Linked DNA regions of Homo sapiens: region 2 is linked to region 1. Evidence: fine-mapped expression QTL. A gene starts in region 1. The other region holds a variant in brackets. All regions are shown on one strand. Distances are between the middles of the regions.

Region 1 (4,400 bases):
TGTGAGAAGAAATCTGACAGTACTTTTTATTTGTATTTATCATCATCATCATTATTATTCATTCATTGCTCAACTGCATGGACAGTACGTTGAAAATAGTAAATTAGTATCACCTCCCTAATCACTTCCCCAATGTTGTTGAAATGTGTCAATATTTGAATATATACAAACTGAGTGATTTCTACAGTTAAACCTCAAGTAGAGACCAAGATCAATAATACATTAAATTTTAATAACTTGGATTAAGTCGTGTTTGGGTTAACGATAAATATCAAAAGATAACTATTACACCTATTCCAGATAATAAATGTATTACTTTCCATAATATCTGGAATAGGTATAATAGTTATCTTTTGATAGATTCCTTGATGGAGAATCTGGTGGCAAGGGGAAGTTAACGTTTTTAGTAGGAAACTGAGTTTTTCCTTTCAGAGGTCGAAGAGGGAAACTGGTTCCCTGGGGCCCTGAATAAGGCCCCAGTAAAGGCAATATTCAATAAATACCTGGTGCTGGCAATTTTTAATTTGGTTGAGTGATGTTTTTACTCCTAGTTATTTTGATTCTAAATGACTTTATGGAGATACATGAACATATGTCCAAAGTCTTTGGACAACACTTTTCATAGCTGATTATATCCGAAGCATTTAATGTTCCTGTTGAAGTGAAGAGCTTGAAATATAGGGCCTTTTGAGACTATTCCAAAGCAGGTGATAAAAACAAAACAAAACAAAAATCCAGGAGCAAAAAACGAAGGATCAGGGTGGGTGGCTCATGATTGTAATCCTAGCAGTTTGGGAGGTTGAGGCAGAAGGATTGCTTGAGGCCAGGGGTTCGAGACGAGCGAGGGCAACATAATTTGATCCCTGTCGCTATAAAAAATTAAAAAGCTCAGCCAGGTGTAGTGACCGACGCTTGTAGTCCCAGTTACTCTGGAGGCTGAGGCAGGAGGATCGCTTGACTTTAGGAGGTCTAGGCTGCAGAGACCCATGATTGTGCCCCTGTACTCCAGGCTGGGTAACAGTGAGATCCTGTCTCAAACAAGCAAACAACTCCCACCCCTAAAAAAACGTGCACATGACCTTAAAAGTGTAGGAAGATTACATGATAAGGAGAGTCAGAGAAAAGAGAAATTAGGACAGGAAAGCACTACAAGCTATGTATGTTTATTTTATAATTGAGTCTTTAAGGGTACGGAGTATTCGTACTCAACTTGTACCCCCAGTGTCTAGTACGCTGCTTGGTAAACAGCTGGCAATCAAGAAATGTTTGCTAAATTTTAAATGAATTGATGGGGGCGGAACTTCAGAAAGTAAAGCCTGACTCGCTTTATTTCTAAGAAGGCAGAGGAAGTAAAAATCTAGTTTTCCGTACTCTGTCCCCTTTTTAATCCTTCTCTGAATGGGTGTCCTTGATTCACTGACATTTCCTAATTAACCAAGTTCTGCCAAGTTTCACATGAAACTTGGGGAACCGATTTCATTCCCCCAGTATCACCCTGTGGCGCCACCTTCCGGAGCTGTGAGGAAACTCCGGACTTCCCCCCAACACCGCCCCCTCCCTCCACCCTCGGTCTCCGCTTTCTGCGCTCTGCCGCGTTGGTTTTCGGAGGTGTCTGGGCGCATGCGCTTTGGACGGGCCGCCTAGCCTAGGAGAGACTACAATTCCCAGAAGACAGTGCGAAAGAAAAAAAAAATCCCGCGGTCCGTGGGGGTGGGAGAAATAAACGCTCGCGAGAGAACGAGGTTCAGGCGGCTGCACGAAGGGGGTGGAGGGGGGCTGGAGAGAGTGAGGAGGAAGGGGAGGAGGTGCCGTCCCACAATACCAGGCGGGAGGGCGGGTAGGCGGTTTGTATCCGGGCTGTGAGGTGCTCGGAGCCTCGGCGGACCTTGCTGCCTCTGTCTCTTTAACGCGAGAGGAAGCGATGCAGAGGGGTGGAAAATGGCAGAGCTGCAGATGTTACTAGAGGAGGAGATCCCGTCTGGCAAGAGGGCGCTGATCGAGAGTTACCAGAACCTGACTCGGGTGGCAGACTACTGTGAAAACAACTACATACAGGTGAGGCGCTCTGGCGGCCGGCGGGCGCTGGCCGGGTCGAGGACCCGCCGGAGTGACCAGCCCACTGGGCGGGGTGGGGAACTGCCCTGACCTCAGCGGCTGCCACCAACCCGAGCCCCTACCGCAGCCCCAACCCCAGCCCCAACCGGGGACAGAGCGAGTGGCCGGGCTGAGGGAGTCGGGCTGCGATACAGGAAGTGGCTGTGGTGGTGGAAACCGATAGAAGGGGAGAGAGAAAATGGGCGAGGGAGCCGGGAGCCCGCCGCTGCCGCAGCCCGGCGCCCCCCTCGCGTCCGCTTCCCCCAGGGCCCGGCCACCGGGGTCGCGCGCCCCCCAGGTAGCCTCCAGTCCGCAGGGCTGGAGTCCCGGAATACCCCCGAGCTGCCGCCGCGCCGCCTCTCTGCGCCGGGAGAGGAGGTCCAGGACGGGAGAGGGGAGAGGAGAGGGCAGGGACGAGGCTGAAGCCGCAGAAGGGAGAGGACCAGCGGGGTGTGTGTTGTGTGTCGGCGGAGGGTGGGGTGGGGGCGATTATGTCAGTTTCAGCCCCCAGAGGGTGTGTCTTTTATTTATTTATTTATTTAAAAAAAATTTGTCATGAGTCACATTACACCGACCTCCCGGAGGAGAGGAGGAAGCGGGTGTGGGGAGTGAGGGAGGGCGTTTGAGAGAAGTTCATCTTAAAATTCCTTTAATTGAAGGTTTGTAAATCTGTCTGCTTGTCCATTTTCAAGTCGGGTTTTTTTTATTTTTTTCCCCCTCTCATCGTTTTCACTTCCGCCCCACCATAATGTATTCTAAGAGGTTGTTAGGGCTGCTATCATTAATTATCAAACACGAATTGTTCTTAACTCCTTGGAAAAACGGCTTACCCTCCCTTCTCCCAAAAGTTCTTGAGCTGTAGGCTTCATAAGTAACTTAAAATAGACTGGTGTCATCGCCGGTTGCTTATTTTCTGAGGTTTCTCTCTTAACAAGCTAAGTAAATGTATAGTATGTGAATCCAAATACAGAAACGAACAGAGGTAGCCTCTGAACTACAACGTAAAAATATCTGTTATTGTAAATTAGAAAACTCTTGGGACTTTGTGACAGATGCTTGTTTGTTCGTTTCTCTTTGGATGATTGGAAGTGAATTGTGTGTGGTAGTTTGTTTTGAAGATCTTTAACTGTGTAAACCAACAGTTTGCGCTAGAAACAAAGTAGCACAGTCCTTTGTATAAATATAAAGGCACCAGGAATGCTCTTGCTTTTGGTAAGGCAAGGCCAAAACGTGCTTTGAAAGGTTAGGGTTATTGCAATTCAGAACTAAATTGTTTATAGAAATGTCTCCCATGTGATTATAATTTTTAAGAACCGATGTTTCTGTGTTGGCAAATGCTTCCCCTCTTTATTTTTAGAGGGAGATGCTGTTTTCAGAATGTTTTGAATATTTCTCAGTTTTCATGTTAGTAACATTGTATCTTCAGTAGCACTACTCGGAATTTATCTTCACAATTTTTTTTTCAAGCTTTCACTTTAGGAATTCTCCTGATAAGTGAACTTGTTGAATGCCTGCCACATCTACTGTATCACTTTGTGCAAACTTTATATTTAGCCCTTCGAAAAACTTTTAAAAATCTAGTAGGGATGTGGATATGGTTTGCAAATATAAAAGTGATCTCGTAGTTTATCGATATTAAAAATAGGCAACTTTTATTCAACTTAACATGAAAAGCCTTGAAATTGAGGAGAACCTTAATTTGCTGAAAGTTTTAAAGATTTTTGAAAGCCAAAAGGAGAGCACAGTAAGTTTAATTTCTCGCTTTCCAGAAAAGTTATGTGTTCTCTGTAGAAGTCAGTAGATAAGTGCTTCATACAGGGGTGGCTCCTTTTTGTTTTGCATGTTGGGAAATCTGACAAGTATATAGTGTGGTAACTATGTGTTGGCAACTGTTAGTAACTGTAAACGTGTTTTAACCTGTCTGTGTACTATTACTTTTTCAGGTAGTTGTATGTTGTAATGCTTTTTTTTTACCCCTCTCTGACCCCTTTCCTTTACTCCTCTTGCTACAATCATGTAACTTTGAAGCACTTTAAAACTTCATTGCTAATATCTCTAATTAAGTCATGTTATTTTTCATACAGTCTCTCACTTTATAAAATGTTAGTGCCATGGTGCACGAATAGCCACAGTCAGTGGCCCCGTTTTTTTTTTTTTTTTTTTTTTTTTTCTTTTTTTGTGGGGGCGGGGTGGGGTATAATCCTAAATCTGACACCAGTGAGGTGTTTTGTTCATATTGGAAAAAAAAAAAAAGAATTCACGCAAAGCAATGATTATCTAAATACCTTAGTAGCCTTTATACGTTG
Region 2 (4,400 bases), 55 kb after region 1:
TAGCTGGGACTACAGTCATGCACCACCACGCCCAGCTAATTTTTGTATTTTTAATAGAGGCGGGGTTTCACCATTTTGGCCAGGCTGGCCTCCAACTCCTGACCTCAAGTGATCCATCCACCTTGGCCTCCCAAAGTGCTGGGATTACAAACGTGAGCCACCATGCCCGGCTGGGTTTGCTATTTTTGTAGCTAGTTTTGCACCATGCTAGACAGCTAAAACTCAGTTAGGAAACTGCATATAGCTTGTGACCCAGAGGGCAGAGTTCATGGTGACCACAACAGCTGGAAAGTGAGTGGAAAGAGAGACCTGAAGGGAAAGAGCCCCAAATTTTGTGTTAAAACTTTGCCTGTATTACAGGCTGAGCTGTGTGTGGAGCGAACTGCATGCAACTCAGCCAAGGATAAAAGAACTGAACAAAGATTTCAGCTGCTGCCCATCTTGGAGGAGAAAGTTTGCGATTTAAGTCAAGCTAAGTTTAGTATCAACTTTTTTTTTTGAGGCCGGGTCTCACTCTTGTCGCCCAAGCTGGAATGCAGTGGTGTGATTATGGTTCACTGCAGCCTTGTCTTCCTAGGCTCAGGTGAAGCCTCCTCCTCCCACCTCAGCCTCCCAAGTAGCTGGGACTACAGGCATGCACCACCACACCTGGCTAATTTTTCGTATTTTTTGTAGAGATGGGGTTTCACCATGTTGCCCAGACCTGTGTCGAATTCCCGGGCTCAAGCGATCCACCACCTTCTGCCTCCAAAAGTGCTGGGATTACAGGCGTGAGCCACTGTGCCTGGCCTACTGTAAACATTTTTTGTTTGTTTTTTCTTTTCTACTTCTTTATCTTTTTAATTTTTCTGCCCTTGAAAATCAAAACATTTTTTAAAGGACTATAGCAGAATCTAGAGTTTCTGTAAGGTATCATTTACCACATATAAAATGTAATCTAAAATTACCATACTTAGGAAGAACCATGAAAACATGGCCAATATTCAAGAAAAAAAGATAATCAATTGAGATAAAACTTGCAATTACATGCATGTTGGACAAATGATGATTTCTTATGTGTGACAACTTGTGGATTCAGGGACTTAAAACTTTTTGTAGTCAAAGGGAATTTTAGGATACTGATTCTAGTCTAATTCATTGTTTTTCTCATGTATCTAAGGTCTAACTGGCACTTACCAGTTTGTTAGCCTCTTGCACTGATATTACTCATTTTCTTTCCTTCTTGGTGTGCTGCTTCCCCTGTAAGGTGTTAACTTGTTTGGTGTATATGATTCAAGGACCAGGAGATAGAAACCATTCTAACTATCTTAAATATAAATTTACTCTCCACAAATAAGTTCCAGAACTCAAAAACTGATCTGCTGGGGAAGCTATAACCACTGATGGTGCCACAGGAATTACTGAGTTTAAGAACGTTATGCAAGGGTTTCAGGCCATGGCTTAGAAAGCTGCTGCCATTGTTGCTGCCTCAACTGCCTCTTGACACCCACAAACCTGGTGACTGGGCATTGAACTTGGAGTCCAGCTGTTGTTTCCAGTGCGGTTGCCTGTAAACATCCAAACAGTTGGAGAATGGACACTGGAGCATCAATTTGGAAAAAAACCTTATTTCTTGACTTACTTTGCCAATAGGAAATGTAAAGTGGTAATAAGAGATCTCCACTTCACTTTCAGTTTCCAAATCCCATGAAAGTATTTTATTGATAGATCAGAAATTGTATCCAGAAGCCTGGTGGTGAGAACAACTGGACAATGTTGATTTTAGCTTTTTAGCTTCTGCAGTGCAAGCAGATATTCTTGGGGCAAGGATCAGGAGGGTAGAATGAAGATTGAATGAGCTGGTTTTACAGCATGGCTTGAAGGAATAACAGTTGAATTGGGTCTTAAAGGAAGCCTGTTCATTTATCATGTTGATACGGAGTATAGATGCATTCCAGTCTGAGGTAATGGCATTAGAGAAAGACATGCATGGTTTTTTCAGGGTGATTAGAATGTAGGGTATGATTTCTGCAATGAGGAAAGTACCTGGAGATCAATTTGCAAAAACCTAAAGTTCTAAATTATAGCTTATTTTCCTTTGATTTGGTTTCATTGCTGAGGCTAATTGTGTTGTGCTAGGGGAGTAGCTGGTATCCTTTGGCTTCTTCTCTGCTTCTTGTATCTGCTGGGTGCTGGAATTA[C/AC]ACAGCTCCTGAGTCAGAGCAATATGCTTAGCAGAAATAAGCATCAGTCTTCCTGAACCATCAGATGGCAGACTGACGTGATATGCCCTGAATCAAAGGAAAGGCAGTATCTTTTGGAAATTGGAGACTCTGTTCTTTGCTTTTAGGGTAAACAGCTGGCAATCCTGCTTCTGTTCAATATGCTTTTTGGAGAAATGAATCACCTAAGCCTGCATTCTGCCTCAAATAATCTGTATTTGTGGGGTTAAGGAAGCAAATCTTCAGTCCCTCCCTGTTGATCACAAAGTGTGGGTGAAACCATTTCTTTGTTGTGTCCTAAAATATGACAACGGAGTGTTCTCATTAACCTTAGAATAAAAACTACCTTTTTTTTTTTTTTTTAAATAAAAAGTGACTTTGGAACTGTCCTTGAGCTTGAGTATAAACAGCTAGTTTGGGAGTCTCCTTCCAAATTTCATGTTCTTTTGGTTGTCTGTAAGCCGTTCACTCACCAGGCTACTGCTCAGACCTCTGAAGTCTGAGTCTTCACAGTAGCCTAATCTTGCTTTAAAGTCTGGAAATGGATTTTTACTTCCTATAGTTCAGATACCATAGCATGGCATAAAAGTCTCATTGATGTGGTCTCTTCAACTCTCCTATTTCTGCCATGCCCAGCTTCTTGAAGTGTTGCAGACACAGCTGTAAATTTGTGCGTCTTTGTTTTTCCAATTATGTGTTTGTCTTACCTGGAATTCAGTTTGTCCTGTTTCTGTTCTGCCTAATAGGAACACCGTCTGAGGTCTTCACTAATCAGCTCAGGATAGAGTTACTGGCCCTCTCTTTGTTTTATACCTTCTAACTTATTCCTTCTTTTACATTGATTTTTGGGTATATGTTTGTGTTCCTTACCTTACTCTTTAAAGATAAGGACCATGTTTTATTCATCTCTGTATCTTTATTACATAGTAACTGGCATTTACATAGTTTGATAAGGATATGGAAAGAATAAGACAGTGTGGTGTATTTTGGAGTCATAAAGACCTGTGTTTGAAGCCATGTTCTGTCACTGTGTGATTTTTCCTACCTACCTTTTTGAGTTTAGTTATCTCATATGCAGAATTTGGACAATAGTGCTAACCTTGGAGATTAAATAAGGAATTGCTTATAAAGCATTTACCTTTACATAGTGTTGGCATTATTAGTCATCATATCTGTCATCCCTTTTTTCTCTTATATTCAATCTCTCTTGTGTTCCCACTTCGAATAAACATTTAACATGTGTATGTCTTCCCATCTTAAGTTTTCCTAACCATGCCTTTTGATATATTGCCTTTCTCTGTTGTCAGTTTACAACCAAGTTCTTGAATCTGCTGTTTCCTGGCAGCTTCTTCCTTCAAACATATGTATGCCTCAATCCATTGTGATTTTTTTTTTTTTTTTTAAATAGAGCCTTGCTCTGTCACCCAGGCTGGAGTGCAGTGGTGCGATCTAAGCTCACTGCAACCTCTGTCTCCCGGGTTCAAGAGATTCTTGTGCCTCAGCCTCCCAAGTAGCTGGGACTACAGACATGCACCACGACGACTGGCTAATTTTTGTAGTTTTAGTAAAGACAGGGTTTTGCCATGTTGGCCAAGCTGGTCTCAAAGTCCTGACCCCAGGTGATCTGCTTGCCTCAGCCTCCCAAAGTGCTGGGATTACAGACATGAGCCACCACACCCAGCCGATCTATTGTATTTGACTTTGTTTCCTTCCACTCCCTGGACATTGCTTTTGCAGAGTCATCAATTATATTTGTTCTTAATATAATAGAATTTTTTTTTTTTATTTCATCCTTTGTACTACATAGCAGAATTTTTTTTTACTTCATCCTTTGTACTACATACCAGGTTTGTAATTATGTTTATTTGTATGCGTACTTATTTAATGGCTATTCTTTCTTTTGAGGTTAAGTTTAATGATGACAGGAACCTTATCTGTTTTGTATATCACTGTATCCCTAGTATCTTCAATAGGGCCTGGCAAGGAGTTGATCCTCAAGTCTCTTAAATTTTCAGTGTGTCACTTTAGAAAATCTGTAGTTCTTTGCAAATAGGGCACGATGTCAATTTTATTTTTAGAAAGATTCTCCATTTTGAAGCAGAATGGATACACTCTAGTGTAAAATTTCAATTATCAATTATTTGGTTCAGAATGTTAAACAGATGACTTAATGTGATCACTAAACATTTTTGCCTGCCTGTT

Evidence for each region.
Region 2: its variant is fine-mapped to the expression of ABI1 in whole blood (TOPMed, PIP 0.90).

What each region holds. Positions count from the first base shown.
Region 1 is chr10:26,858,402-26,862,801 of GRCh38, reverse strand. ABI1 (abl interactor 1) reads left to right here and starts at 1,844. Exons shown (of 11, transcript NM_001012750.3): 1 at 1,844-2,055. The coding sequence starts at 1,939. RefSeq lists an enhancer at 1,602-1,801 and silencers at 2,122-2,211, 2,322-2,471.
Region 2 is chr10:26,803,582-26,807,981 of GRCh38, reverse strand. All of the region lies in intron 2 of ABI1 (abl interactor 1), which reads left to right. Among named protein-coding and RNA genes, the nearest start is that of ABI1, 55 kb to the left of the region's middle. The variant C/AC (reference allele first, on the strand shown) is at 2,181.